Homo sapiens: one gene and its partners. The protein of the gene in region 3 purifies or fractionates together with the protein of the main gene of each other region. This does not show direct contact. Each region holds a gene or a part of one and is shown on either strand. Other genes may lie near its edges.

Region 1 (7,423 bases), on a different chromosome or scaffold from region 3:
ACCCTATCTCAGAACAAAAAAACAACAAAGAAAGCAAAACAGTTTTATTTACAAAGACAGGTGGCAGCTGGATTTGTCATGCAGGCCAGAGTTTGTATACCCCTGTTCTAAGCAGTCAAGTTTGTTGTCTTTTCCACGCTCCCCAAACTGCTTTCAGGTCGCTGATTACATTTCTCATTCCAGATTCTGGCATTTGATTGGAGAATTTGTCTTGATCAGGCTCAGTGGCTCACGCCTGCAATCCTAGCACTTTGGGATGCTGAGGCGAGAGGATTGAGTGCGGGAGTTTGAGATCAGACTGGGCAACAACTGAGACCCTGTCTCTACAAAAAATTTATTAAAAATTAGCCAGGTATGGTAGTGCACGCTGGCTGAGGTGGGAGGATCACTTGAGCCTGGGAAGACTTCAGTGAGCCATGGTTGTGCCACTGCACTCTAGCTCAAGCAACAGAGCAAGACCCTGTCTCCAAAAAAAAAAAAAAAAAAAAAAAAAGTCTTATTAGCAGTGATGGTATGGGTGTTCTTTTTTCATGTTGAATTTTAGTGAGAAGCAGTTTCAGAATTCTTAGATTAAGTCAAGTCCCATAACATCATACATGTCAATATGGTAAGGGAGGGTTTTCATTTCATTTGGGGAACTTGACAGGCTTGGAAATATTAGTACTTTAGGGGAAGATAAAATGCCAAGCAGATTTTCCACATATTTTCAGATTGGCATAATTTTCCTGTTCATAAGCATTGGTTTGATACTTACCTGACTCTTGAAATAACATGGCTGTGGTTTTGTTGTTTTTTCATTGAGATGAGGGTCTCGCAGTGGCATGATCATAGCTCACTGTAGCCTTGAACTCCTGGGCCCAAGTGGTCCTCCTGCCTCAACCTCTGCATTAGCTGGAACTAGAGGCAGCTTGAGGTGTGCACCACCGCGCCCAACTTGTGTTGGTTTTTTGAAGTGTTTCGTTGTATAATGCTGGATCATGTGGTTAGCTAATTATGTGGCTCAGAATTAGTATTTCTAAGCAAGGGACCAACCATAGGGCCAAGTAGTATCTGTTATGTAGGCTTTAAAACATGGGGAGAGAAAGAGGAGGTAAGGATAAAGGAAAAGAACATACGTGTGTTAGGAACCCCTTTGATAGGGGCCGGGCGCGGTGGCTCATGCCTGTAATCCCAGCACTTTGGGAGGCCGAGGCGGGCGGATCACAAGGTCAGGAGATGGAGACCATCCTGGCTAACACAGTGAAACCCCATCTCTACTAAAAATACAAAAAAATTAGCTGGGCGTGGTGGCGGGCACCTGTAGTCCCACCTACTCCAGAGGCTGAGGCAGGAGAATGGCATGAACCCGGGAGGTGGAGCTTGTGGTGAGCCGAGATTGTGCCACTGCACTCCAGCCTGGGTGACAGAGCAAGACTCTGTCTCAAAAAAAAAAAAAAAAAAAAAAAAACCCTTTGATAGTGGTTGCATTTAGTAAGCATTTATTAATGGTTTTCTGCAAATCAGGTATTGGAAATACTTTATCTTTTTAAAAGTCCATTCCCTCTAGAGATTTATGGTATAATGGTAGAGGCCTCATATGAATAATTATATATTATAATGTAATAATACAAAACAAATCTAAACTAGATACATTGTTGCTTTGATAACAATATACTTTACATATCTCTAAAGACAGACTCTCTTTACATAACTGTAATACCATTACAGTTGACTCTTGAACAATTCAGGGGTTAGGGACACTAACCCGCCCTACCTCCGCAATGGAAAATCCACATACCACTTTTGATTTTCCCAAAACTTACCTGTTTTAATAGCCTACTGATGACCAGAAGCCTTACCGATAACATAGTCAATTAACACATATTTTGTATGTTACATGTTTTATTATACTGTGTGCTTTTTTTTTTTTCTTTTTTTGAGACGGAGTTTGCTCTTGTTACTCAGGCTGGAGTGCCAGTGGCAGGTCTCAGCTCCCTGCAACCTCCACCTCCCGAATTCAAGCGATTCTCCTGCCTCAGCCTCCCAAGTAGTTGGGATTACAGACATGCGCCACCATGCCTGGCTAATTTTTTTGTATTTTTAGTAGAGACGGGATTTCATCATGTTGGTCAGGCTGGTCTTGAACTCCTGACCTCAGGTGATCCACCCACCTCAGCCTCCCATAATGCTGGGATTACAGGCGTGAGCCACTCACTGTGCCTGGCATATACTGTGTTCTTAACAATGAAGTATGCTAGGAAAAAAGTTATTTTAAAAAATTGTGAAGAAGAGAAAATGTGTTTACTTTTTATTAAGTAGAAGTGGATCAGCCGGGCCCAGTGGCTCACGCCTGTAATCTCAGCACTTTGGGAAGCTGAGGTGGGCAGATTGCCTGAGGTTGGGAGTTTGAGACCAGCCTGGCCAACATGGTGAAACCCTATCTCTACTAAAAATACAAAAATTAGCTGGGCGTGGTAGCAGGCGCCTGTAATCCGAGCTACTTGGGAAGATAAGGCAGGAGAATCACTTGAACCCTGGAGGTGGAGGTCGTGGAGAGCCGAGATCGCACCATTGCACTCTAGCCTGTGCGACAGAGTGAGACTCCATCTCAAAACAAAAAACAAACAAACAAAAAAACGGATCATCATAAAGGTCTTCAAGTTGAGTAGGCTGAGGAGGAAAGAAAATACAGGAGGGCTTGGTTTTGCTATATCTCAGGTGGCAGAGGTAGAGGAAGTCGAATGGGATTCAGGAGATGCAGGCACACTTGGTGTAACTTTACAGGAAAACCTTACGAACCGTTTTGCATTTTCATTTCTCTAAAAATGTTTCTGTATAGTAACAATCCTCTTTCCATTTGCTTTAGTTTCAGTGCTGGTATAATAGAAGGGTCCATTCATAAAGGAAGTCCAAAGCAGTCTTAAGTAATCAGAACCCTTCTGCCAAATTGTCTAATGTCAATTTATTTTCTGGCACTGCTTCTTTAGTGTCTTCTTCCTCATCATCTGGCACTGGTTTGGAAGCAGCTCATCTCCATCAAGTGGTCTTTTAATTCCTCTGGTGTGGTGTCTGTTAGCTAACCCTTCACCTTCCACGTTTTCTTTGCCATATCCACAGTCTCTTTCGTGATTTCCTTGATGGGCTCTGTTGTAGATACTGCGAAGTCACGCGCAACATCTGGACACAGTTTTCTCTACCAGGAGTTTATTGTTTCAGTCTTGATGATGCCATGGTTTTTTCTATAACAACGATGACATCTTCAGTGGTGCTCTCCTTCCAGACTTCCATGATGTTCTGTGGGGGTTCTCTTCGATAGCATTGACAGTCCCTTCCAGAGTACCGTGTGCATCTTTACGTTTGTTTACATTTCTCTCAATGTGAATGGTACCATATACGGTCTGTAAGAGTTTGTGTGCATAAGTTTTGATAAATCTCAACTTTTTATTAATAGATTTATGTATATTTTATCGTAGTAAATCATAAGATAGGCTACATATGTCTTATGCATTCATGACAACTCTTTTTCTTAATTTTGGTTTGTCCGCAAGTGTTTTCAAATTGTTGGCAAACCTCCAAAAAATATTTCAATATATTTATTGAAAAAAATCCACATATAAAGTAGACTTACAGTTTAATCCTGTGTTGTTCAAGGGTCAACTGTATATGTTTTAAAGCAATACTCTGTTGGTATCAACTATCTATTGTTCAAATATCCCCAATTATCTTAAATTTTGCTTTTTTTTGTTTTTTGGTGTTTTGTTTTTTTTTTTCAGAGGTAGAGTCTCGTTCTCTCCCCAAGGCTGGAGTGCAGTGGTGCAACTCGGCAATTCTCCTGCCTCAGCCTCCCAAGTAGATGGGATTACAGGCACATGCCACCACGCCCAGCTAATTTTTTGTATTTTAGTAGATACAGGGTTTCACTGTGTTGCCCAGGCTGGCTCAAACTCCTGAGCTCAGGCAATCCACCCGCCTCAGCCTCCCAAAGTGCTAGGATTACAGGCATGAGCCACCACACCCAGCCTATCTTAAATTTTCTTTTATAGTTGGTTCAAATTGGGATCCACATAGGTCCACAAATTGGATTTAATTGATATCTCTTGAGTCTCCTCTACCTGTTGTTCCTTCTCTTCCCCCCTCCTTGCTTTTTTTTCTTTGTTGAAGAAACTAGATCGTGTTGTCCTGTAGAGTTTCCCACATTATGGATTTTGCTGGTTGCAACTGCATGGTGTCATTTAATAGGTTCTTCTATCCCTGCATTTTCTGCACTGGTGATTAATTCAAGAAACTTGATCAAATTCAGATTCAGTGGTTGGGGGGGGAGCCCAGAATACTTAATTGATTATACTTTCTATTGTATTATATCAGGAGTTACATGGTATGTAGTTGCCACTGTAGTTTTCTACTTAAAAATATCTCTGCTTTTTGCTTGTTTTACATCTTGTGGCATACTGTAGAACAGTGCCATCCAGTAGAACATTTTTGTAATGATGTAAATGTTCTTTATCACCAGTGTCTAATTTGGTAGTCACTAAGCACATGTGACTATTGAGCGATGAGGAACTGAATTTTTAGTTTCTTAAATTGAATTTTAAGTAGTCAGGTGTGGCTTGTGGCTACTGTATTGGAAAGTACAATTAATAGGACATTTTTCAAGAGTATTAAATAACAAAAGTAGCAGTAGATGTCTATTCCTGATTTTAGCCTAGATCACAGTACTGTTTCATCAGTAAATCAGCTTTTTAAATTATTAATATTTTTAATGGACAAATCATAATTATACACATTTATGGAGTACAGTGGAATGTTTTGAAATATGTAAACAATGCAATGATTAAATCAAACTAATTGTTGTATTGCCTTGCCTTAACATTTTTATGGTGAGACATTTGAAATGATACTTATTTTGAAATATATATTATTATTGACTATATTCACCCTGTTGTGCAATAAATCTCAAAACTTACTCATCCAGTCTATCTGAAACTTTGTACTCTTTGGTCACCAACTCCCCATTCCCTCCCTTCCTACCCCTCTATCCCCGCAAGCCTCTGGTAACCGTCATTATACTCTGTATGTCTGTGAGTTCAACTTTTTTAGTTTCTACATATAAGCGAGATCATGTAGTATTTCTTTTCTGTGCCTGGCTTATTTCACTTAGTGTAATGTCCTCCAGGTTCATCCATGTTGTCACAACAGAATTCCTTTTTTGAGGCTGAGTACTCGTGTGTGTGTGTACATACATGACGTTTTCTTTCTGTGTTCATCCATTGATGGACACTTTACATGGATTCCATGTCTTGGCTATTGTGAATAATGCTGTAGTGAATGTGAGAGTACAGAGATACCTTTGACATACTGATTTCAATTCCTTTTCATATATACACAGTAGTGGGATTGCTGGATTCTGTGGTGGTTTTGTTTTCAGTTTTTTAAGGAACCTCCCCATACCATTTTCCATAATGGCTATACTAATTTACATTCCCATCAACAGTGTATCAAGAGTCTCCTTCTTTCTTTATCTTTGCCAAGACTTATCTTTCATCTTTTTGATAAAAACCATTCTAACAGGTGTGAAGTGAGACTTCATTATGGTTTTAATTTGATAATCAGCTTTTATGTACAGTTTATGTGTTATAATTATATCACCCAATTTTTCTTAATGGGACAGCGATCTAGGGCAGCCCTGCAGAGGTACCTGTTCTACTGTAATCGCTATATGAACCACATGCAGAGCCTGCGCTTTGAGCACAAACTATATGCTCAGGTGAAACAGAAAATGGAGGAGATGCAGCAGCACAACATGTCCTGGATTGAGGTGCAGTTCCTGAAGAAGGCAGTTGATGTCCTCTGCCAGTGTCGTGCCACACTCATGTACACTTATGTCTTCGCTTTCTACCTCAAAAAGAATAACCAGTCCATTATCTTTGAGGTAGGAGTAGTTCTGGGTGAGGAAAAAGCCCACCTTGTATCATAGGTCTACCTGATCTTTCATATATAAGATACAGAGTTTTCAGGGTTCTTGTTTGTTCAGAACATGTAGGTAGACGAATGTATTTATTACAAAGATACAAGAAATTTCTATTTCTTGTCCTAAATTATATTCAGATCGATGTGGTTTAGCCAGCTAGTGATTAGGTATGCAGGTTCTGGAGTCAGCCCTAGATTTTAATCTTTACTTCATTATGTTTTAGCTCTGTTGATTTGGAGCAAATTCCTTAACCTCTTATTTGTCCATTTTAAAGTGAGGATAGTACCTTTCTAGGTTGTTATGAGGTTTAAGTGAGACAATTTGTGTTTTATGTGAGACAATTTGTGTTAATTGCTATACGGCACCTGGAACATCATAAGTTCTCAATAAAAGCCTTTATTCAGGCTAAACTAACCCTGCAATATTAGAAGTTAATGTGGTGGTTATCTTTAGTGGAGAAATAATGACTAAAAAGCCAGCTTTTAGCAGTAAAGGTTTTCTCAAGTAAAGATGTTCATTTAAAATTGATGCATAAAACATTGATATCTGTATATGACTAGACAATAAGACTGACTAGCAGATGGGACTTCAGTTGGGTAACAGGTACAAAACTAGCCATAGTGGTAAAGGATGATACAATTTGAATCTTCCATACAGTGTTTTCTTATAAGAAATAAGTATAGCCAGATGTAAGCAATAATAGGTTTCTATTTTTTCTCATTTACCTTTGAGTTTTCAGCAAAGAGCAGCTCTCAGAACGAGAAGATTCCAAAAGACATTTTAAATCCTTTCAAATGGTCTTCAGTATTCTTCCAAAAGTAATGGGTGAAATCTTTCGTTCTTTTAACATTTAAAAAATTGTTCTGGAAAAGAACAAACAAGTTATTAGAGATGAAAGCCCATAGAGCTTTACAGGTGCAGTTAAACCACCTATGAAAGTTACAGAATGAGTGTTGAGAGCAGTCTGTAGTCAACAAAACAGTGAAAATGGTTTATCTTTTAGCTTTATTTTGAAGCCAAAATTTACTTTCATTCTTCTTACAGAATAACCAAGCAGATCTAGAGAATGCCACAGAGGTGCTCTCGGGCTACCTTGAACGAGATATTTCCCAAGATTCTCTGCAGGATATAAAGCAGAAAGTACAAGACAAGTACAGGTAATTTTTTTTTAAGCTGTTGAATAAAACTTTCTGCCAGTGATGATCCTTACTGGTAAAGTTCAGTGATAGTGAAACTGGGTTTAGCATATCCAGCAACTGAGCTTTTGCCATGTTTCTCACAGATTGCTTCTGTCCGTTGGGCACTAAATTGCAGGTAATAGTATTGGTGAAGCATACATAGAGAAGGAATTCAGCCATTTATTCTATTGGCTAATTCCACTTCTGTTCAGTTATTTAGTTGCTACCTTGCAAGGAAGAAAGAATCCAAAAAGGCCAAGTGGCCTTTAGGATGAGAGTGAGAATTGAATGTTGGTCT
Region 2 (7,423 bases), on a different chromosome or scaffold from region 3:
TATGGGGTCAAACTGCAGCCAGGAAGTCTTTAAACATTAGGAGATCAGTTTTGACAACCAGATCATGTCAAATCTAGAAAAGTTTACATAGAGCTGCTATGGAACTCTCCCTTTTTCTACATCCCTCCTACCTTCTTAGAGTTAGAAGGGATCTTAATAGATTAACCCTTAATTTTACATTGACATCTAGAATTTGTAAGCTTATGCCTAAGGACTCATAGCAAATGGACAGTAGCCTAGAGCCTGGTGAGCATCCCATTGTACACATTGAATATTATCCTCTCCCTCCTGCCTCCACTCCCCATCTTATTTATTTAAGTCAGCCAGATATCTTTCCTAAGCCTCTGCACTGAGAAGGGCCAGGTGTATTCTTGATCCCTGGACTCCTGAGAGAGGCAGATGTAGCCCAGCAGGATCATTGATCATGTAAACAAACCACAGCCTTGCCCTCTGTGCAGGGATGGTGGGATGCCATAAGCCACAAAGAGCACTCCCTCCTCCATCCTCTTTTGTAAGGGATCAAGGGTCAAGGTTTAGTCCATGGAGAATTTTGATATAAAAGGCAGAGGTCAGGAGTTAAGTAAAACTAAGAGCACTCATAGCCAAATAGGTGAGCATTTCATTGATGAAGCAGTAACTGGGAGACAGGCTCCAGACCAGTGGCCGTTCCAAGGCTCCTGCCCCCTTCCCCAGGGGGTCCTCTTCCCCATGACTCCCCTTCCCCAGGCTTCCTTCTCCGTGGCACCACTACACATCAATATTCCTGGCAATATTCTTCATCATGGAGACTTCGGCAGCGACTTCAACCAGATGAAAAGCCCCACCTCATTCCTGAATGATTGAGGTGCTAGGTAAGCTTGTCTGTCCATCTGGCACTGCCCAACTCTCTACCCTGGGATGCTTCCAAGAGGTGCATGGGTACCTGGGACCTTGAGCATCAGTGTCAGGAAATGGCTGACACCTCTCGTGCATGTGTTTGATTGAAAGAGATGTCTACGGCCTGCTCATTTCAGTGTTAATCTGTGCCTCAGAGCAGGTCACCCACTGAATGTTTTATTCCCATTCCCAGCATGGTGTGGAGGGTGCCAGTGCCTTCACTTTGCATTTCTTCTGTCCAGATGTCTCTGGAGGGTCATTCTTAACTGTCTTGCTTCCAGAACATGCTCTTTGTAAACCCCTGAAACATGGCTTGGATCATTCCGTCTCCCACCTCAGCCCCTCCGGAGCTGCCTGGACCTCATCATTCCGGAGAGTCTAAGTGGCCTCTTCTCGTGCTCAGCTGCTTACCTCAACCACGTCATTATCATACTTTTGAGTCTGGATGAATTTTGTCTTAGGGCGGAGAGCTCATCAGTTCTACCGGTCTTGGAGAACAAGATTTTCTAAAGGGAAAGGAAGATTCTTGAACATATTGTGAAAGAGATGTATAAGCACCCAGACAGGAAATGAGGATAAGTGTTTATTAAACACAAGTTATTTCATACTAGCCTCATCCTCTTTTTGGAAACCATTATTAAACTGGTAGAGTATGGAAATCCCTAGATGTCAGATACCCGGACTATTTAAAGTTATGTTTTAATCATGTAATAAAGGAATGCATTCTCATATAAATTAAAACTTGGACAAGGCTATACTTGATTACCATCTGAACCCTAGTCTCCTCACGGTAAACATCAGTTTAGCATGTCATCCGAGACTTTTCTATGCATTTGCACAGAATGCATACAGTTCCATGCCTGTGGATGGATTCTTTGGCTGCAAACAATAGAATATTGTTTGTGATGTTAAGAAAAAAACATGTTTATCTCAGAACAACTAAATCTAGCATATTTTTAAACAGTTGTGTGGAATTTTATTGTGCAGATAAATTGCTTTTTATTTGGCCATTCTCTCAATGATGGGTATTTAGATTGTGTATAGATATGGACTTTGGTAAGACATCTTTCATGATTCCCTCGGGGTTCGGATGGAGCCCCTTGAGCTTGGTGCTATTGAAGGGATTAGTGCTTGGTGCTGTTGTGGAATGGGCCACCTCAGTTTGGAGGGAGATAGTATGCAATAGTGCTCCACCTTGCCCACCATTCTCATCAACAGCCTGAACCATGTGTCATTTGTGGATGGCAGGAAGCAAGGAGAGGTAGTTAATACTTAAGGGTGCAGAATCAGGTCCAAAAAGACATATGAAGGCTAGAATGGTTGGGCACCCTCACAGGAAATTTAGCTAGAATACATTTCTGCACCCTACTTGTGGGTCCAAAAAGCAGCTAGACAAGTTTTAGATGTAGAAGCATTTGTCAAAAGCTTTTCTGGGGGAGCAGGGCTTTGGTTTACAAAAGAGCAGTGTGGTTGTCAGTGGCATAGCTGATAGAAAAGGTAACCTGACATTTGGCAGCATTAAAAGAAGTATGGCTTCCGGAGCAAGGGAGGTGACATTCCTCACACTGTGGCCTGACCTGCAGCCTACCTGTGGTCTGAGTCATACAGGTCTTAACGCTCTATACTGTTGTGTCTGCGAGAGACTTTTTCTCAATAGTGTTGCTGAATGACAGGTCGTGACCTCAGAGACTCAGCTCATTCATGCTGGTGTGTTCCTTAGAATGTGTTAAGAGGCACAAACCAATCAAGAAGCGAGCCTTGTGCTTTATGATCAAGGTTTTCCTTGAGGGAACAGACAAGCATCTCTTAACAGTTTCTTTGTAGCCAGCGTTGTGATGAATCCAACTTTAGCCCAGAGGGTTGGATGTTGAACCTGAGGCACCAGTTATCACCGATTTTTTCAGGTCCAGCTAATGTTTGCTGAGGTCTACTGTGTCGGTTCCTGTGCTTGAAATGACTCTGCAGGGTCAGAATTATTATCCCAGGTTTACAGATAAGGAAACTGAGGCCCAGGAAGGTTCTATGATATGCTGAAGATAATGCAACTATGAACTGGTGAATTTCGGCTCAGCCTTCCAGGCTGGCATTCTTTGCCCAGTACCACTTAACTTTATTCATGATCCATTTTAGGTAAACAGTCCCTGTGCCATGCCGGTATGCTTAGCTATTCCAAAGACAGATACTCTCCAGGATGGGCAGCTCCTATCTCAGTGTGTTACCTGGAATGCTTACTGCCCAGAGCAGTGATTCTCAAACTCAAGAGCCTCGGGTTCTGGCAAGGTGCCTTAGGGACACAGGTGGGAGCAAGGAGGGGCCCAGGGAGACAGCAGGTGGTGGCACATTGAGCCTTTACCTCTGCAGCTTTGAATTGACCTATTTTTATATTTGGGTCTCTGTTTAAGATTTCATTGCCGTGGTAGGGAGAGTTCCAATGCTAAACTAAAAATTCAGCTGTGGGGCAGAGAGAGCACGTGACGGTGAGGGTTCTTCTTCAGAGCCTCTTTAACTGGGAGGCCTCCTTGCTCTCCTCTTTGCTCTGCTGAGCCAGCAAGGCCCTGCAGCCAGCATACCAGCCTCTCAGGGCTGTCTTCTGTGACCTCAGGCAGGTAGGAGCCACCAGCTGCCCTGGAGTCCTGCTTAGAAAGTGAGGCTTCCTCTGTTGCCTCAACATCAGGAGTCTGCCCTGGGGCTGGGATTGAGGTGAGGGAACCCCTTCATGTTTCTCCCCAAGGCTTCTCTCCGGGAGTAGTCTTTGAATGGTGGGTACCCAGAGGTGCTCCAATGTCTGTATATTAGGACATCTGACCCTTTCCAGGACACACCAGGACCCTGACAGGCACGTGTGTCCTGGGCCTGTTGTCACCCTTTCCATCCCCTCAGTGTTGTCTCCTAGTGTCGGAACCCCAACCCCCAGCTGAGTTCAGCTCTTCTCTGCCCTGGTTATCTCAAATGGAAAATGAGAACAGAGGTTTGCTCAGCCAGATTCCTTCCCTGCAGTCATCTGCAGATAAATGAGATACTCTCTGTGAAAGAAGGAAGCTGAGTCAGTGCTTCGCTCACCCCTGAGGAAGATGCTCACCTGCTCCTCTCCCCAACCCCCTCCCTCCAGCCCCAGTCACCTGTCTGTGGAGGGGGCCAGGTTCAGCCTGCAGGGTCCTTCCTCCTGCCAGCCCCCAGGTTGTTCTTGGCTCCTGAGCATGGAGTAGACGTCAGTCAGGCTGGACCTTGTGATCTCTATTGGTGTTCCCTTCCTCTCCCCACTCCATATGAGAAAAAAAAATACATCTGGATTAGAGATGAACAGGGCCATTGTTCTGGCCGGCCTCAGGGCCAGCAGACGAAGAAGACTTGTGACAACGATGGCAGGGATCCCATCTCCTCGCCTGGACACTTTCTCCTCCCCACCAGAAATGAGTAGGTTACAGCCGAGGGGAGCAGCAGTGTCTGAAAAAGACCACCAGCGTTCTGAGCTGGAGGTTCTTATAGGGCGTGGGAGAGGCAGCATCTTTCCCCAAAACCTGCCTGATGGTTGGTGTGGGGCCACTTGGCTTTCCTTATTCCACAAGGCTAATGATGAAAAAAGGGATCCAGAGGCTTCACCTTAATCATAACCATTTTAGCTTCTGCCCTAGAATTACTGAATTTGAAGTCCTCTTTCCTATTACGTTCTTTTTTATTTTGTTTTATTTTTTTTTTTTTTTCTGAGACATCTTGTTCTGTCACCCAGGCTGGAGTGCAGTGGCACAATCTTGGCTCACTGCAGCCTCAACCTCCTAGGCCCAAGTGATCCTCCTGCCTCAGCCTTCTGGGTGGCACAGGTGCATGCCACCAAACTTGGCTAGTTTTTTAAATTTTTTGTAGGGGGGGGGGTCTGACTATGTTTCTCCAGCTAGTCTCTGACTCCTGGGGTCAAATGATCCTCCTGCCTCAGCCTCCCAAAGTGCTGGGATTATAGGTGTGAGCAATGGCACCCATCTTTCCCATTATATTCTAAAGTATCTATACTGTATCCCTAATTTCAAAAGTAATTTATGAATAATGTAGTAGAAAACTTGAAAGCACAGGAAAGCAAAAAGGAGAAAAATAATTCCACTACCCAGAGACAACCGCTGTTAAAGTACTATGCTGTGTATTCTTTGTTTTTGTCTAATCCTGGGCTCACTCTTTACATTCTGTCTCGGGGTTAAGGGGGATTTCTCTTCAAATAATTCCCAGTGATTGAATGTGAGAGTGAGAGATGGCTGCAATCATCTGCCCAGCTCCTTTATTTAGGGTTGAGGACCCAGGTCCAGGGGAACTGACCTGTACCTTTCCACACAGTGGGCAGTGACTGGGGGAGGACACAGGTCAGGCTTCCTGATTTAGAGGGCATGCAGTCTTGCTCCCACTCTGGGTCCTGCCTTGTACCCCTGTTGTCCTCCTCCTTCGCTTCTGCTCACTCTGTTTTAGTACCTGATGCACCTGTTTCCTGGACTGGACCCTCCAGCTGCAGCTGCCATTTCTCCTTCTCCCTTTCCTGGCTGTCCGCTCCCTACATGACTGCCCTCCCTCCCTCAGGACTCCCTGCTTTCTAAGGACTTCCAAGCTCCACCTTGTCCAGACCTATATGAGCTATTGTTGCATCTGTGTGTGATCACAGCATGGAGGCAGACGCACCTTCTTTTGAGCTCTGGCTGTGCCCCTCCTCATTGTGGAAGCCCTGCTTCCCTCAGCTCTCAAGCAGACAAGAACAGTCCCAGCATCATTGTGTGGTCATGAGAATTAATTAAGCTGATCATGGTACTTAGTATATGGTAAATAGTACTTAGTATGTGGAACATGGTACTTAGTGTATGGTAAATTAACTGGAGAATTAATTAAGCTGAGCATGGTAGTTAGTATATGGTAAATGCTCAAAAAATGTTTGCCATTCTTAATAATAACAATACTAATAATTAAGAATGACACTTCCTCCCTCTCTCTTGCTTCCAACCAGACTATAGGGTATGACCCCATCATTTCCCCAGAGGTCTCGGCCTCCTTTGGTGTTCAGCAGCTGCCCCTGGAGGAGATCTGGCCTCTCTGTGATTTCATCACTGTGCACACTCCTCTCCTGCCCTCCACGACAGGTAGGTGTGTCCTTACATTGTGGATTGGTCACAGAAGCCACAGACCAGTTAACAAATGGGCCCTCCATCTGGGCCTTCCCCAGACAGTGGTAACCAGCTGTGGGGAGAGGTCCACCTGGGTCCTGCAGAGGCTGGTGTTTTGTTAGACACCCCTACGTTGGATAGGGGAGGGTGAGCCAGCTAGAAGTGCTTGGGGTCTAGGTAAGCTGGGCACAGGGACAACCAGTGACCCCCATGGATGCTTTCTGCAGCCCCTGCAGGGCTTTCTGATTCCCAGACCCACTTGAAACAGTAATATCTCAAGAATTTCTAAGATGTTTCTAAACTGAGTCTGGCCCAGATCCATAACAGGGACTCCTGCCCCAGAGCATCTGAGGAGGAAGAGATGAGAGCAAAGAGGCTGCCGTCCAGCAGGAGAGAGGCTCTGGGAAAGAGCTGGCTCAAGGAAAGGGAAGACCTCTGGAAGCCAGGGATGAGCGTGGGGATCCTGGTGCTGCCCCAGCAGGAAGATGCTTCGCTTTCTTCCAGGCTTGCTGAATGACAACACCTTTGCCCAGTGCAAGAAGGGGGTGCGTGTGGTGAACTGTGCCCGTGGAGGGATCGTGGACGAAGGCGCCCTGCTCCGGGCCCTGCAGTCTGGCCAGTGTGCCGGGGCTGCACTGGACGTGTTTACGGAAGTAAGTGCCTGGCAGCCTCAGCGTCAGGAGGACGGGAGAGATAGGGAGCAGAGAGGCCCATGGCAGGGAAAGCCTGGCGTTTTACAGAAAGCCTCTAGCTTATTGTCTCTTTCATCCATGGTAAAAGGAGAAAACTGTGTTGCCAAAAACACACCTTTGTGGTTTGAGGAGTCCTTGCGGAGCCTGGTATGGAGGCAGCTATGTGGTTTTCTGCAAAACTCGGGCTTTAAAGGGGACCCAGTTCCTGGTTCCGGGCTTCTCAGACTGCTAACATATTGACAAAGATAAAGCCACAAATCAGTTCTGAAGTTGAGGGTCTGGAGCAGGAAGAGAGGGGGCTTTAGTGTATAGTTGAGGGACCCTGATGGAAATGCAGTCCCATTGCCAAGAAAATGTCCTTTTCAGTGTCCATGGGCATTCTTTTTCCCTTCTTCTCTTGCTGGGTGGACAGAAGCCCGAGGATACTGGCAGTATTCCCTCAGGGTCCTCGGGGTGGGCTGCTTTCCCAGCTGGAGCAGAGGCTCAGCCTCACACCAGATCCAGTAGGGAAGAGTGCATTTGCACTCGAATCCTTTTGGCTCCTCTCCTGAAAGATCCTGTCCCCAACATTGGAGCTTCCCCTGGTGAGGAAGGGGAAAGGACATGGACTTTGGATTAGGTAGTTGTGGTTCGCAGGTTACTAGCTGTGTGTCCTTGGAAGGTCACTGGCCCTCTCTGAGCCCCTGTAGCACTCACTGTGTACTCCCAGCCCAGGGCACACAG
Region 3 (7,423 bases):
TTAGTCTTCTGGAGTCCTGGATGGTAGTCCAGGCTCTGCCACTTACGTGCCATATGATGCAGGCAGGTCCCATCCCCTCTCTGGCCTCAACACTTCCATGTGTACGTGGGGGTGGCATGCAGGAGTGTTGGCAGTGGCCAGAACTCTGAGGGGCAGTCTTCCTCAAACGATACTTGCTCTCTTGCCTTCTGGCCCAGGTCATAGCATTTCTTCTGAGCCGCCCTCCCCTGACTTGCTGGTTCACTCCTCCTTACTCTTCCCTTGTGATCTTGGATCTCAGCTCTGTCACCACCTCCTCTAGGAAGTCTCCCCTGATTTTCCTGGCTTGGGTCTTCCTGTGCGGCTCTGCACTCCCACACTGGACTGTGATTTTCTGTACCCTCTCAACTGAACGTGGGTGGACCAAGGCGTGTGTTCTGTGCCTGGCATGGTGCCTGGCTCAGAAAAGGCCTCCGGGAAATAGGTGTTGAATGCATCAAACTACAAAAATTAACAATATGAGAAAAGTGAGCTGAGGAGCTAGGAAGGATAGGTCTTAAGCTAGATCTCAGCAGAAACAGAGGCAGTGGCCGAGCAGAAGCAAGGCAAGCGGGCATTCCTGGAATCCTGTTAGCGTTCCCCCATGAGGCCATGCACTCTTAGGTGGGGCTTCCTGGGGTCATCTTGGTTCCCCATGCAGCAGCTCTGTGATCTCGGACAAGTCACTTAATATTACAGGGTCTCGCTCTGTTGCCCAGTGGCCTGACCATGGCTCACTGCAGCCTCCAACTACTGGCCTCAAGTGATCCTCTTGCCTTGGCCTCCTGAAGTCCTGGAATTACAGGCGTGAGCCACTGCACCGGGCCCATTTAATACTCTGAGCCCCACCTTTCCCATCTGTGGATGGAGGTAATGATAATAGCATCTTTGGGGTGTGGCTGTGAAGATAGATAGATGAGCATGCAAAGCTCCAAGTGCCTGCTGAATTGTAAGTGAAATAAGAACGTGTGCCGCTGAAGGCTGTCCCTGGAGGCAGGGACACTCTGGCCAGGCCTCATTTAGTTGGTCAGTGGCTGAGTGACCCATGAGGTAGGCCTCTGCCCCTGAGTTCCTGGCCCTCTCTTCCTCAGCCCCATGTGGAACCCAAGGATGCAGCTGCTCTGCTAACACGGCAGCCCATCCTTCAAGACTGTGACCTCGCCACAGTGGCCCTCAGCCCTCCACCTCCGGCGGGGGCGAGGGCCACCCACCTCCAAGTCTCCAGCCATGACGACCTCCGCACTCCGGCGCCAGGTGAAGAACATCGTGCACAACTACTCCGAGGCAGAAATCAAGGTGCGCGAGGCCACCAGCAATGACCCCTGGGGCCCCCCTAGTTCGCTCATGTCCGAGATCGCTGACCTGACCTTCAACACAGTGGCCTTCACCGAAGTCATGGGCATGCTGTGGCGGCGGCTCAATGACAGCGGCAAGAACTGGCGGCACGTGTACAAGGCTCTAACATTGCTGGACTACCTGCTCAAGACGGGCTCCGAGCGGGTGGCCCACCAGTGCCGCGAGAACCTCTACACCATCCAGACACTCAAGGACTTCCAGTACATCGACCGCGACGGCAAGGACCAGGGCGTCAACGTGCGCGAGAAGGTCAAGCAGGTGATGGCCCTGCTCAAGGATGAGGAGCGGCTGCGGCAGGAGCGAACCCACGCCCTCAAGACCAAGGAGCGCATGGCACTGGAGGGCATCGGCATTGGCAGTGGGCAGCTGGGCTTCAGCCGCCGCTACGGCGAGGACTACAGCCGCTCCCGGGGCTCCCCGTCCTCCTACAACTGTGAGTAAGCCCCGGTGTGTGGCTGGGATGGGGAGGTGGCCCGACTTCCATTCCTGGCTCTGCAATCCAAGCCATGGTTCATAATACCTACCTCCGAGGGGTGTTATGAAGATTCAGACATAAGGAATGTAACACGCAAGGCGCAACACCCGGCACATAGGAGGTGCTCAACAAGTTAGCTCAGATAATAACGTTGTTATAGATTCATTATCATTCGTTAGCTGCCTGATAGGATGGCGCGATAGTGGAAGCATGGGTTTGGAGTCAGATAGCATTCTATATTCTGCTTCCTCCAAGCTGTGTGACCTGGGCAACCAGTTCTCTGAACCTCAGTTTCCTCATCTGTACAGTGGGGATAAGCTCACCTACCTCCATTGTTTGATCTGAGAATGAAATGAGACCAGGTTCAGGAACGTCCTCTACCCTGCACCCAGACACATGGCATTCCCCTTCATCCCCCTACCTGAGGGCAGCGGCTAGACAGTCCCTGACTCTCCTGCCCCCAGTCATGGGGGCTTCCAGGATCTGAGGAATACTCAGAATGGCCCGCCTTCCATAAAGCCCTTGACAGTTTGCTGAGGGCTTTGAGGTTGTGACCTCGTTGGACTAGAACCTCCTATCCTTGCACCTCCCTTGCCCCCAAGCCAGGACAGGGTCCATCTGGAAGTCCAAGAGCTGGAGTCAGGGCACCTGGGTTCAAGTCCTGCTTCAGGAACCTGGTCAGGGGCCCTAAGTGCCGCCTGTGCATCTGCTAAGGAGGGACTGGAGCCGCCCCTCCATCCGGGATGGGTTGGGATGGGGAACTTACAGAGTGCCTGGCACACTGCTTGGCCCACGGGGGCCTCAACGGCCGTTGTTCCCCTCCTCTCAGTTCTCTTGAGCCTCAGCTTCCTGGCAGGCAGAGGGGTGTGGGAGCCGATGGGTAATCGTGTGGTCACAGAGACATGATGGTCATTGCAGCCTCCTCTTCGTCACCCCGCTATACCTCCGACCTGGAGCAGGCCCGGCCTCAGACGTCAGGGGAAGAGGAACTGCAGCTGCAGCTGGCCCTCGCCATGAGCCGTGAGGAGGCAGAGAAGGTGAGGCCATGCAGCCCCACTGCGGTGGGGAGGGGATGGGCTAGGGGGAGAGAGTGCCTGGGAGCCCCTTGGCCTTGACTCAGGCTCTGTCACCCAAAGCCCCAGTCCTGTGCCCAAGGACAGCACAAGACCCATTATCTCTGTCGGTTTGTCGCAGGCAGGGACTGCCTCCCTGCCTCCAGTCCTCTCCACTGGGCCTGGAAAGGGTGGCGAGTGTACAATTAGGGGCACATGCTATGTCTTGGGGTGCCTGCTACCACCTCATGGTGGAGTGGGTGAGTGTGCTCAGACATATTCCTAGGAGACACTGGGATATGCTTCCCACCCCCGCCCACCAGCTATCCTTTTGGGGAGACAAGGACAGGCCCCCGATATCATCATCTTTGCCATTACCTCTGTGGATCCAGGAAGACCAGGCAGGAAGCAGCTGGGCCTCACACAGGAGGGCCTGAGGAACTCTCAGAGGATTCAGAAGCGAAAGATCAGTCTTCCTGACCTTTAAACTGCATTTCAGATGCAGGCAGGGAGAAGGCCACGCCCACCCTGCTGACTGAGCGGCAAATGGCCCATGCACACTGAGGGTGGGCATTAGTGTCTCCATCCCCATGACCCAGGCAGGCCTATACTGCCCTTCTGGTCCCAAGGTGGGGGTACAGGGCCAAGTTTACCCCTCTCTTCCTCCGCAGCCTGTCCCCCCAGCCTCCCACAGGGACGAGGACCTGCAGCTGCAGCTGGCTCTGCGCCTGAGCCGGCAGGAGCACGAGAAGGTAGTGGGCCGAGCCCGCTGGGCTGCCGGTGCTGCTGCTGCTGCTGGTGGAGGTGCTTCAGGGCACTAACAGCCTCCTCCCGCTGTACCCGGTGGCCCTGCTGCTCCTAACCTCTCAGCTGCCTCCCACCCTGCACTCTCTCGACTCCAGCCTCTGGTGCACAGGTCCCCGGATTCCCGCCTGAGCTGCTCATGCTCCTAACTCTTTCTGTGCCTTCTGCAGGAGGTGAGGTCCTGGCAGGGTGATGGCTCCCCCATGGCCAATGGTGCAGGGGCCGTGGTCCACCATCAGCGGGACAGAGAGCCTGAGAGAGAAGAGAGAAAGGAGGAGGAGAAGCTAAAAACCAGCCAGGTAGGGAGTGGGCTGCGGTGCTTGGGATGGACAGGGCCTAAGAGATGGACTGAGTATTTGTAAAGAGAGAGCAGAGCAGTGCCTGGCATATAGTAAGCACTGATGTGTTTATTCGATGAAATAGGGGTGGGGGTGTAGCAGCCCTAGTCCCACATTGCATGGGCTGGTGACTGAGTTAACAGCAAAGTGGGATGCAAAAGGTTCCTGATTGGAGACCCCCGGATTCGGGTTCTGGATTTGCTGCCACTTACTCTATGACTTGGGGCATGTCACTGTCATGGCCTCAGTTTCCCCTTCTGCACAGTGTGCTTATTGGATAGTTCCAGCTCTGACATGCTAGGATTATGTGATACTGTCAATCAAGACTAGGGTTGGCCTAAGCACATGGTGCTGAAAACACCTCGGGCTCATGGACATATTTTCTCCGCATGGGGAGTGGGCAGCTGCTGAGTGCAAGGCTGCCCTCCAAAGCTGTCCATGCCACGCCCGGGTGCTGTGGTCTCCTTTCCGTCCATGTTCACTGTGGCCAGTTTCTCTTGGACACTGACCTAGGGAGGTAGGCTGGTTGAAAAACATCTGCCTTTGGCCTTCCTGCCCCTTTCTGCTGGCCTGGATTCTATCCCAGCTCTGCCTCTCCCTGGCTGTGTGACTTCAGGCAAACCCATTCCACCCTCTGTGCGCTGGCTGGCTCATCCATAAAATGGGTACATCATCTGCCCTACCTACCTCACAGGGTTGTTATGAAAATCAGGTACTCTGTGGATGAAGAAACATTATAAACTGTAAAGCACTGTGCAGAGGTGAGGGATCATGAATAGGTATCTGTGGAATGAATAAAGAGAATGAACTGGCATTAGCCTGACAGGTCAGGGCCTGCCCTCCCTCCAGGCCCCGCCCACTTCTGAGCCGCGGCTGCCTCTCCCCTCCACAGTCCTCCATCCTGGACTTGGCTGACATCTTCGTACCTGCCCTGGCCCCGCCCTCCACACACTGCTCTGCTGACCCATGGGACATCCCAGGTGGGCATGCAGGGCTGCAAGAGACTTCCAGGCTGGCCCAAGAGCCTCCTCCTTCCCAGCCACTTGCTGGGCCAAGCACCTCCTCCCAAAATCTGAGTGTCACCGGGCAAGTCACTCACCACCTTGAGCCTCCGCCGCCTGTGGGACAGGCTTTCGTAGTGAGGGCTATGGAGAATGTCTGAAGGGCCCAGCTCCTAGGAAACGCAGCAAAATGTTCTCTCGCTGCACTCACTTGCTCAGCACGCCTGGGAAGGTGGCCTGAGTCGCCCACACCTGCAGGTCCCAGTTCCTGGGGTCACTTGTCAAATAGGGGCTCCAGCCTGCTGGGTGGTCCTGAGGCTGCAGGCCATCTGTGACATGGATCTTCTGCCTCCCAACTTGGGCTGGGTAACTGGGAAGGGCCCTGGGCGAGGGATAAGGGTGGGCCTGGGATCATGTCTATGCTGTTCCCATTTCAGGTTTTAGGCCGAACACAGAGGCCAGTGGATCCTCCTGGGGGCCTTCTGCAGACCCCTGGTCTCCGATCCCCTCAGGAACCGTCCTGTCCCGAAGCCAGCCCTGGGATCTGACTCCCATGCTCTCCTCCTCTGAGCCCTGGGGCAGGACCCCAGTGCTGCCTGCTGGGCCCCCCACCACAGACCCCTGGGCCCTGAACTCTCCCCACCACAAACTCCCCAGCACTGGGGCTGACCCTTGGGGAGCCTCCCTGGAGACCTCCGACACACCTGGTAAGAAGAGGGCCAGAGAGTGTGAGTGAGGAGCTGGGGGACTTCCAGGCAGGGCCAAGGGGCAGCAGATACTGTTTGTGTTAGGAGGACAGCTTCTCTGGAAAGGGGTCAGACCAACACCTGCCCTTTTTGTCAACCCATCTCCTCTTCCTCTCTCTCTTCCGAGGTGGTGCCTCGACCTTTGACCCATTTGCCAAACCTCCAGAATCCACAGAGACCAAGGAGGGGCTGGAGCAGGCCCTGCCCTCTGGGAAGCCCAGCAGCCCTGTGGGTGAGCAGGGCAAGGGGATGGTGAGGCTCTGGGGAATGAGGGGCCCACCCCGAGCAGCCTCTGTCCTCTTCCTCCCACGTCGGGCGCCAATCCCTTTCCCCACCAATTAGCTCTAGCATTTCTATTCCAGAGCTGGACCTGTTTGGAGACCCCAGCCCCAGTTCCAAGCAAAATGGCACGAAGGAGCCAGATGCCCTGGACCTGGGCATACTAGGGGAAGCACTAACCCAGCCAAGCAAAGAGGCCCGAGCTTGCCGGACTCCCGAGTCCTTCCTGGGTCCCTCAGCTTCCTCCTTGGTCAACCTTGACTCGTTGGTCAAGGCACCCCAGGTTGCAAAGACCCGGAACCCCTTCCTGACAGGTAAGATATGCCCTTGTCCCTCAACCCAGGGGCTCCTGCTTTCAGAGCCTAGCCTCCGCCGGAGGAGCCCACTCTTCTTCCCAACTTCCACGACCTCCCGGTGTAGGGCTCTGAACCCCGGGTCACTCAAAGCCACTCTCGTTCTGCAGGTCTCAGCGCTCCGTCCCCCACCAACCCGTTCGGCGCGGGCGAGCCGGGCAGGCCGACGCTAAACCAGATGCGCACCGGCTCGCCGGCGCTGGGCCTGGCAGGCGGGCCTGTGGGGGCGCCCCTGGGCTCCATGACCTACAGCGCCTCTCTGCCCCTCCCGCTCAGCAGCGTGCCAGCTGGCTTGACCCTCCCCGCCTCGGTTAGCGTCTTCCCGCAGGCCGGAGCCTTCGCACCGCAGCCGCTGCTGCCCACGCCGAGCTCAGCCGGGCCGCGGCCCCCGCCCCCGCAGACCGGCACCAACCCCTTCCTCTGAGCCCCGCCCCGTCCCATACCGGCCTGCGCCTGCGCCGGACGCTCCGCGGCCCCGCCTCCGGACCCGGGGCTGGGCGGGGCGCCGGTGCTAGTGGAACGCCGAGCCAGTGGCGGCTGGTATCCCGCGGCGGCTCTGGAAGCTGGACGCGGACCACGGCCCGGGAGCTAGAAACTGAACGCCCGCATAATAAAGACTGGAACCCTCGTTCTCAGCTCTCACCAAGTGGACTTTTTGCGGGGTGTGGCGGCCGGGTCTCGACCACAGCGTGGATCACCGGCTGTTTAGGAAACTGCAGCTGCACAACGTGGGGTGCAAAACTGCCCCGCTTCCTTTACAGCTCTTCTCAACCCTCACCTCCATCCCCCGTCACCCAGGCACCTTCGCTTCCAGATGCTGCCAGGCTGTCACTCAATTCGGTCATTTCATTCATTTATCACACATGGGCACTGGGGTTGGGCTAACAGCAAGAGACAATAGGCCTTTGTTCCTATTTATTGGGTACTGCTTACGTGCTAAGCAGATCAGTTTATTTAATGCTTGCAACGACTCTCTGAGGTAGAAAATATTGTTAATTCCG
Region 4 (7,423 bases), on a different chromosome or scaffold from region 3:
ACATTATTTTCTTATGATCAATGTGTTCCTGCTTAGTACATCTTTGCTTTAACCAGATTTAAGAAATATGCATAATCTTGGTTATTGTAAGTCTTATTCTTTTTGTTCTTCCTATTCATGCCTCTTCCACTCCACTCTTCTGTGTCAAATTGTGACTTGACAGCCTTTCCTTCTACCGTTTATCTGTAGGATATTGGGAGTGTGTGGCATGCATCCTCATCATCAGGAAACTCTAAAAAAGAACCGAGTGGTGCTAGCCAAACAGCTGTTGTTGAGCGAATTGTTAGAACATCTTCTGGAGAAGGACATCATCACCTTGGAAATGAGGGAGCTCATCCAGGTATCTGGAGGCAAAAGAGAGAAGATAAATTGATCATGGGGTGGGAATAGAGCATGACAAAATATGGAAAGGGTGTCGTATCTTTCTTCCTTTTTTTTTTTTTTTTTTTTGAGACAGAGTCTCTGTCTCCCAGGCTGGAGTACAATGGCGCGATCTTGGCTCACTGCAGCCTCTGCCTCCCAGGTTCAAGTGATTCTCCTGCCTCAGCCTCCCAAGTAGCTGGGACTACAGGCAGGTGCCACCATGCCTGGCTAATTTTTTGGATTTTTAGTAGAGACAGGGTTTCACTGTGTTAGCCAGGAGGGTGTCGATCTCCTGACCTCATGATCCACCTGCCTCGGCCTCCCAAAGTGCTGGGATTACAGGTGTGAGCCACCACACCCAGCTGGATGTTGTACCTTTCTAAAGAAATGGAAATGCCCTTCTACCGTAGAGCATTTGAGAGAAATGATATATAACTCAAGAATAACAGAAAGGACTTCACCCATACATACACTTTTCCTGTAAAAAGAATTCTTGGATGAGGACACTACTAGGAAGCTCATGTGGAGAAATAGAATTATAGCTAGAGAAGTAAATATGATTTCATGTTTTATTCTTGTGTCTTAGGCCAAAGTGGGCAGTTTCAGCCAGAATGTGGAACTCCTCAACTTGCTGCCTAAGAGGGGTCCCCAAGCTTTTGATGCCTTCTGTGAAGCACTGAGGGAGACCAAGCAAGGCCACCTGGAGGATATGTTGCTCACCACCCTTTCTGGGCTTCAGCATGTACTCCCACCGGTATGAAGCTTTAGTAATATGGGGTGTTGGGAAGGGTTAGTTTGACTGGAAAGGAATTTGTAAGTCAGAGTGAGGGAGACTAGATTTTGTTGTATTTGGACCGGACCACTTCCCTAAGGTCTGTCATCATGAGTTTTGATTTCTTACAGTTGAGCTGTGACTACGACTTGAGTCTCCCTTTTCCGGTGTGTGAGTCCTGTCCCCTTTACAAGAAGCTCCGCCTGTCGACAGGTGAGAATTGATGGACTAAAAGGGGTCCCAGGCCAGGTGCCACGGCTTACGCCTATAATCCCAGCACTTTGCGGGGCCAAGGCGGGTGGATCACCTGAGGTCAGGAGTTCGAGACCAGCCTGGCCAACATGGTGAAACCCCGTCTCTACTAAAAATATAAAAACTAGCTGGGCATGGTGGTGGGTGCCTGTAATCCCAGCTACTCGGGAAGCTGGGGCAGGAGAATTGCTAGAACCCAGGAGACGGAGGTTGCAGTGAGCCAACACGGTGCCACCGCACTCCAGCCTTGCCAACAGAGTGAGACTCAGTCTCAAAAAATAAAATAAAATAAAATAAAAAGGAGGGGGGTGTCCCAGATTGACTTCCCCTTTCTTGTCTGGTATCTGGCTTTGTCCTAACATGAGCCCTTTTTTTTGTTTTTTTTTTTTTTTGTTGTGTTTTTTTTCAGAAATAGGGTCTTGTTCTGTCACCCAGGCTGGAATGCAGTGACACCACCATAGCTCACTGCAGCGTTGAACTCCTGGGTTGAAGGGCTCCTCCTGCCTCAGCCTCCCAAGTACCTGGGATTACAGGTGCATGCCACCACACCTAGCTCATTTTTAAATTTTTTGTAGAGAAGGAGTCTCACTTTGTTACCCAGGCTGGTGTCAAACTTCTGGCCTCAAATGATCCTTCCGCCTTGGCCTCCCAAAGTGCTGGGATTATAGGCGTAAGCCACCATGCCCAGCTGAGACATAGTTTATATTGGGAACAGTTGTCAGTAAATTTGTTAAGGGCTAGTAGGACAGTTTATGCAGGAGTTTGTGGTTTTTTGTTTTTTTTTTTTCTTGTGATGGAGTCTTGCTCTGTCGTCCAGGCTGTAGTGCAATGGTGCAGTCTCGGCTCACTGCAAACTCTGCCTCCTGGGTTCAAGTGATTCTCCTGCCTCAGCCTCCTGAGTAGCTAGGATTACAGGTGCGTGCCACCATACCCAGCTAATTTTTTGTGTTTTTAGTAAGAGATGGGGTTTCACCATCTCCTGACCTCGTGATCTGCCTGCCTCGGCCTCCCAAAGTGTTGGGATTACAGGCATGAGTCACTGCGCCCGGCCCAGGCAAGGTGTTATTAATAGTTGGTCCATTTCCCTTCCACCCCAGATAACAGTTTTTGTGATAATTGGGCCTTTGAGTAGCATGTATGGGCAGGAAGTTCATGCTCAATTGGCCTCTAAAAAGCTGAATAAGAAAAGACTACATTTGGGGCCACCAGCCTGCTGATGGAGCATCCTAGTGATTGGAACGAGGCTTTTATCAGCTAGCCCATTCGGTCATTCAGCCAGTTGAGCATATGCTTCATGCAGGCTATGTGCAGAGAATCCTTTAGTGAGCTAAAACTAAGAGTCTCTGCCCTCATGAAGCTTACAGGTTTGGGTAGTGAGTGAGACCAATATTTATCACAACCCAGTTGCAAGAGATGTCTGAAGTTACAATGACATATTAAGATTGATGGTTAAGTTATATACTAGTTTTTTGGTTTTCTGTCTATACCACAGATACTGTGGAACACTCCCTAGACAATAAAGATGGTCCTGTCTGCCTTCAGGTGAAGCCTTGCACTCCTGAATTTTATCAAACACACTTCCAGCTGGTGAGTTTTTGCATAATGACAAGAGGAAGAGAGTTGGGAAATTAGACACCCTTCCTGGGAACCTGAACTTAGTTTGCATGTACATTTCCTTTCTGCCTTATTAGTCAGAAAGTTGTTACTGGTTAAATGCCTTCTGTGAGCATTTGTCTATTTTTACCTGCTGGAGGTTAAGAAGAAAAATACGATGTCTTTGTTTTCTTGAAATGTCTAATCTAGCCGAGGAATCATCTGTTATCAAGACGCTCATGGTCTAACTGGCCTCTCCTCCACAGGCATATAGGTTGCAGTCTCGGCCTCGTGGCCTAGCACTGGTGTTGAGCAATGTGCACTTCACTGGAGAGAAAGAACTGGAATTTCGCTCTGGAGGGGATGTGGACCACAGTACTCTAGTCACCCTCTTCAAGCTTTTGGGCTATGACGTCCATGTTCTATGTGACCAGACTGCACAGGTACCTGAGGTGGGAAAAATTGACATGTAAATTAGAGGACTGAACAACACTTTGGGACCAGAGACATCGTTTGTTCCTGTGCCTGCTGGGATATGTCTTAAAAGTTGGTTTATTCTACTTACATTTTTACTCACTCTGTTCTGCCTCTCACCTTGCATTCTAGTAAGAAAGAATTAGGGCCGGCCAGCCATTTTAGTGTTGACATCTCAGGTTGTGGTTTCATAAAGTAATAATAGTCCACAGTTGGTGTCTCACTTTTTTTTTTTTTTTTAAAGACAGAGTTTAGCTCTGTCACCCAGGCTGGAGTGCAATGGCACGATCTCGGCTCACTGCAACCTCTGCCTACCAGGTTCAAGCGATTCTCCTGCCTCAGCTTCCTGAGTAGCTGGAACTGCAGGCGCATGCAACCATACCTGGCTTATTGTTGTATTTTTAGTAGAGACGGGGTTTTGCCATGTTGGCCAGGCTGGTCTCAAACTCCTGACCTCAGGTGATCCGTCCCCCTCGGCCTCCCAAAGTGCTGGGATTATAGGCATGAGCTACGGCACCTGGCTGGGAAAGTATTCTTAACATTTGTGTAATCACAAGTCATAGGGTAGATTGTTTGTGGACCAGATTTCTAGAAATTGTAAACATTTTCATTATGGGCTGTTCGTCATTAACCTCAGTTACTGTACTGCACAACTGACTTTGTGACCTTTAGGGTTTCTATTTTGCAATCAATAATGGCCTATTTGTAGATTCATATTCACTCTTTATTTTGATTCCAGAATAGTAGAACTTTCTTCAACTTGCTTTGAGGTTGTCAGTGGTGAAATTAAAATTGCTAGGAGATTCACTTTGATCTGTTGGGATAGAGGATCTTTGTTTTCCATTCAGCATTGTCTGTAGTCTTCATTTCTCTTTCTTAGCTGCCCTCCTTCTGTGAGAGTAATTATGTATTTACTATATTTTTGGCAAGGCCAGTTTCATCCACAGGTACCTGGGTGTTGTCCTTTACATGCTATTTTTGCCAGCTTCCCCCTTGTAGCATATGCAATGTAGTTAAATCCACCCTTGCTTCAAAGCCATGGCAGCAACAGCTGCTTCAGTCATCAAGTATTCAGGTAGTTTATATGCTTTCCTGAGAAGTCTGCTGGGCATAAAGGGGCAAAGGGCAGGGTACCAGCCATAATTCCTACAGAAGGTCACTTAACAAAATGTGCAGTGTGTGTGTTTTCTTAGAGGTTTTGGTCTAGCCATGTCTTTTACTAGAAATCTATTATGTCATGGTTTTTCAAGTTGTATGCAGCTGATAAAGGATCTTACATGTCTAATAGTTAAAGATAAAATACTGAGTCACTAAGTCAACTATATATACTGCTGTTTTCTCAGAGACTGTCAGATTTGGTGAGTTTATGAGCTCACTTCATAAATAGCATTTCCATTTATGGTAAGCCTGATGCATATTCAGTGACCTATTGGATTCTAATTCTTTGGTTGAATTGCTCTGTAACTGGAATTGCAGTAGAGTTGAACTTCAAGCACCTTATAATGGGGGACTATGTGAGCTGCCACAGATTTTAAAGATCAGATGAGGGAGTTTTGACATCAGCATAAAAGGAAGTGTGTCCTCTTATATTCCTAACGACCAAACAAGATTAGAGAAAAAATCTTCTGTCATAGCTAAGAAGAAGAAGCGCCTAGGTAGATATGATCAGAAGGATAAGTGGAGGAGGCAGAACTTAAGCTGGCCTTGAAGGATAGAAGTTACTGAAGCAGAGAGGAGTGGTGAAGCCACCCTAGGCAGGGAGAACAGTATGTGGACAAGAAATGTGTGTGTTATAAACCAGGTAGTTGCAATGGGTGTCATAATTTGGTACACTGGGCATCTGCACAGAATGCTCTCTTCCTGGTGGGATCTCCCTAGAGAGTCAACTCGTTTATCATATAGCTATTTGGCAAGCAAAGAAACAGAACCAAAAAAAAAAAAAAGATCCTTTTTTCTTTCCCTATCAAATCTTTCTTACTTAAGAGAGGAATTCCATTTAAAAACAGGAAATAGTATAATTAGTCTTAGAGACTCCTCTTCCCCTGATAGTGCTGCAGTGAACATGGGTATTCTCACTGCCCAGATGTTTTCACTTTTCTCTTTGTTATTAAGTTTTTATTGCATCTACTTCATGAGGTTACTAGTTCTAGAATTATGATTTACCCTATGTTAGGAAACGTACTCTTCAAAGTGGAAATTTCCTTTTACCATGTGGTATTGTTTTTTTAGCTTGCATTTGGGTCACAAACTGCTTTGAAAATGTAAGGACAAGCTATGGGTTATCCCTGGAAAATGCAGCTGCCCATATAATTTAGCATATAATTTCAGAGGGTTCACAAGTTACTCTCTTCACATGTCCCCCAACCCCTAGCCAAAAATACACTTAGGAGTTAAGAACCCTGCTATTTATAGAAGTACTGTAATTTTATCAAAAACAAATCTGCAGATCCTATTTTAAGCTATGCTACTTGTAGAAAAATTCCTCCAAATGTCTAATCCCCATTTATTGAATGGTTTAGTCTTACTAAGTTTGGTTACAAAGTGCGTGTATTCTTTTTTTGGACATTGTTTTCTATTTACTGACCTAATCTCACTAAATTCAAAATGCTCGTGATTCGGTGCCCAGGTATATAATTTTTGTTTTCTTTTTTTTTATTTTGAGATGGAGTTTCACTTTTGTTGCCCAGGCTAGAGTGCAATGGCGCGATCTGGGCTCATTGCAACCTCTGCCTCCCAGGTTCAAGCAATTCTCCTGTCTCAGCCTCCTGAGTAGCTGGGATTACAGGCGCATGCCACCACGCCCGGCTAATTTTTGTATTTTTAGTAGAGACAGGGTTTCATCACATTGGTCAGGCTGGTCTCAAACTCCTGACCTCAGGTGATCCACCCGCCTCGGCCTCCCGAAGTGCTGGGATTACAGGCGTGAGCCACCGCGCCCGGCCTTTGTTTTCTTCTTTGAGCAAAATTAACTTCTTTAACTATTAAATGTTAAATTCTATTAGCATCAGCTCCAGAGGAACATTCACAGTTATGTATTCTCTTGAAATTATATATTCTTGAAAGAATTTTTTGATTATCTGTCATTACCTTAAGATTTCTATTATTATGGTTTGCTTCTACTTAGAAAATACAGATACTTTTCAACAACACCAGTCTCTTTATTTCTAGTTATATTGCAGACTTTCAAATATTTTATGTAATTGCATCTCAATTATCTACAAACAGAAGTATTCCGAACAGATCAATTAGTAGCTCTCAAACTTTAACATATCACAGTGTCCTGGAGGGCTTGTTAAAACACATTTTGCTGGAGCCCAAGATTTCACGTTTCTTCCAAGTTCCTGGGTGATGCTGCTGTTGCTGCTTTAGGGGCCACTCTGAGAACTACTGCAATATGTTATATTATAGAAGTGTGCTTTTTATTTTGGCAGTGTGTGTGATTAAATATATGTGTGTTTTAACTCTTCCACCCAGATAACTTACTTATTTTCATTACATTTTATTCAAGTTTATAATAAAATGAACTTGTTTTCTTTCTGCCCATCTCAGAAGACCCAGACATCGTGAATTATAGAGGGAGGCATAGGTTTAAACATGTGTGCCCAATTATTATGCTCTTTAGGTACACAGTATAACCTTCTGATGGATGGACCAAATGCTTAAGGTAGTGCTCTTCATGTATCGCAACTTAGTGCAAGATAAACAAGATTCTCCAGGCATGGTGGCACATGCCTATGGTCCCAGCTACTCTAGAGGCTGAGGCAAGAAGATTCCTTGAGCCCAGGAGTTCTAGGCTGTAGTGTGCTATGCTGATCAGGTGTCCAAACTAAGTTCATCATCAATATGGTAACCTCCTGGGAGTGGCGGACCACCAGGTTGCCTAAGGAGGGGTGTACCAGCCCAGGTCAGAAATGGAGCAGGTGAAAACTCCTGTGCTGATCAGTAGTGATCTTACACCTGTAAATAGTC

Evidence for each region.
Region 1: the proteins of EPN3 (region 3) and ARIH1 purify together in Homo sapiens (affinity purification with mass spectrometry; 3 studies listed by BioGRID and IntAct, with this or other methods). This does not show direct contact.
Region 2: the proteins of EPN3 (region 3) and PHGDH purify together in Homo sapiens (affinity purification with mass spectrometry; 3 studies listed by BioGRID and IntAct, with this or other methods). This does not show direct contact.
Region 4: the proteins of EPN3 (region 3) and CASP2 purify together in Homo sapiens (affinity purification with mass spectrometry; 3 studies listed by BioGRID and IntAct, with this or other methods). This does not show direct contact.

What each region holds. Positions count from the first base shown.
Region 1 is NC_000015.10:72,575,084-72,582,506, forward strand, and holds part of ARIH1 (E3 ubiquitin-protein ligase ARIH1), read left to right. Parts: intron 1-5,647; coding exon 5,648-5,908; intron 5,909-6,991; coding exon 6,992-7,104; intron 7,105-7,423. UniProt on the Homo sapiens protein: E3 ubiquitin-protein ligase, which catalyzes ubiquitination of target proteins together with ubiquitin-conjugating enzyme E2 UBE2L3.
Region 2 is NC_000001.11:119,728,783-119,736,205, forward strand, and holds part of PHGDH (D-3-phosphoglycerate dehydrogenase), read left to right. Parts: exon of another isoform or gene 1-851; intron 852-1,157; exon of another isoform or gene 1,158-1,617; intron 1,618-5,851; coding exon 5,852-5,984; intron 5,985-6,512; coding exon 6,513-6,661; intron 6,662-7,423. UniProt on the Homo sapiens protein: Catalyzes the reversible oxidation of 3-phospho-D-glycerate to 3-phosphonooxypyruvate, the first step of the phosphorylated L-serine biosynthesis pathway.
Region 3 is NC_000017.11:50,535,312-50,542,734, forward strand, and holds part of EPN3 (epsin-3), read left to right. Parts: intron 1-1,109; 5' UTR 1,110-1,245; coding exon 1,246-1,807; intron 1,808-1,982; exon of another isoform or gene 1,983-2,190; intron 2,191-2,615; exon of another isoform or gene 2,616-2,767; coding exon 2,768-2,886; intron 2,887-3,279; exon of another isoform or gene 3,280-3,443; intron 3,444-3,572; coding exon 3,573-3,653; intron 3,654-3,875; coding exon 3,876-4,004; intron 4,005-4,935; coding exon 4,936-5,023; intron 5,024-5,481; coding exon 5,482-5,751; intron 5,752-5,917; coding exon 5,918-6,022; intron 6,023-6,152; coding exon 6,153-6,383; intron 6,384-6,532; coding exon 6,533-6,846; 3' UTR 6,847-7,423.
Region 4 is NC_000007.14:143,291,351-143,298,773, forward strand, and holds part of CASP2 (caspase-2 isoform 1 preproprotein), read left to right. Parts: intron 1-189; coding exon 190-340; intron 341-949; coding exon 950-1,117; intron 1,118-1,266; coding exon 1,267-1,348; intron 1,349-2,879; coding exon 2,880-2,974; intron 2,975-3,246; coding exon 3,247-3,423; intron 3,424-7,166; exon of another isoform or gene 7,167-7,423. UniProt on the Homo sapiens protein: Is a regulator of the cascade of caspases responsible for apoptosis execution. Might function by either activating some proteins required for cell death or inactivating proteins necessary for cell survival.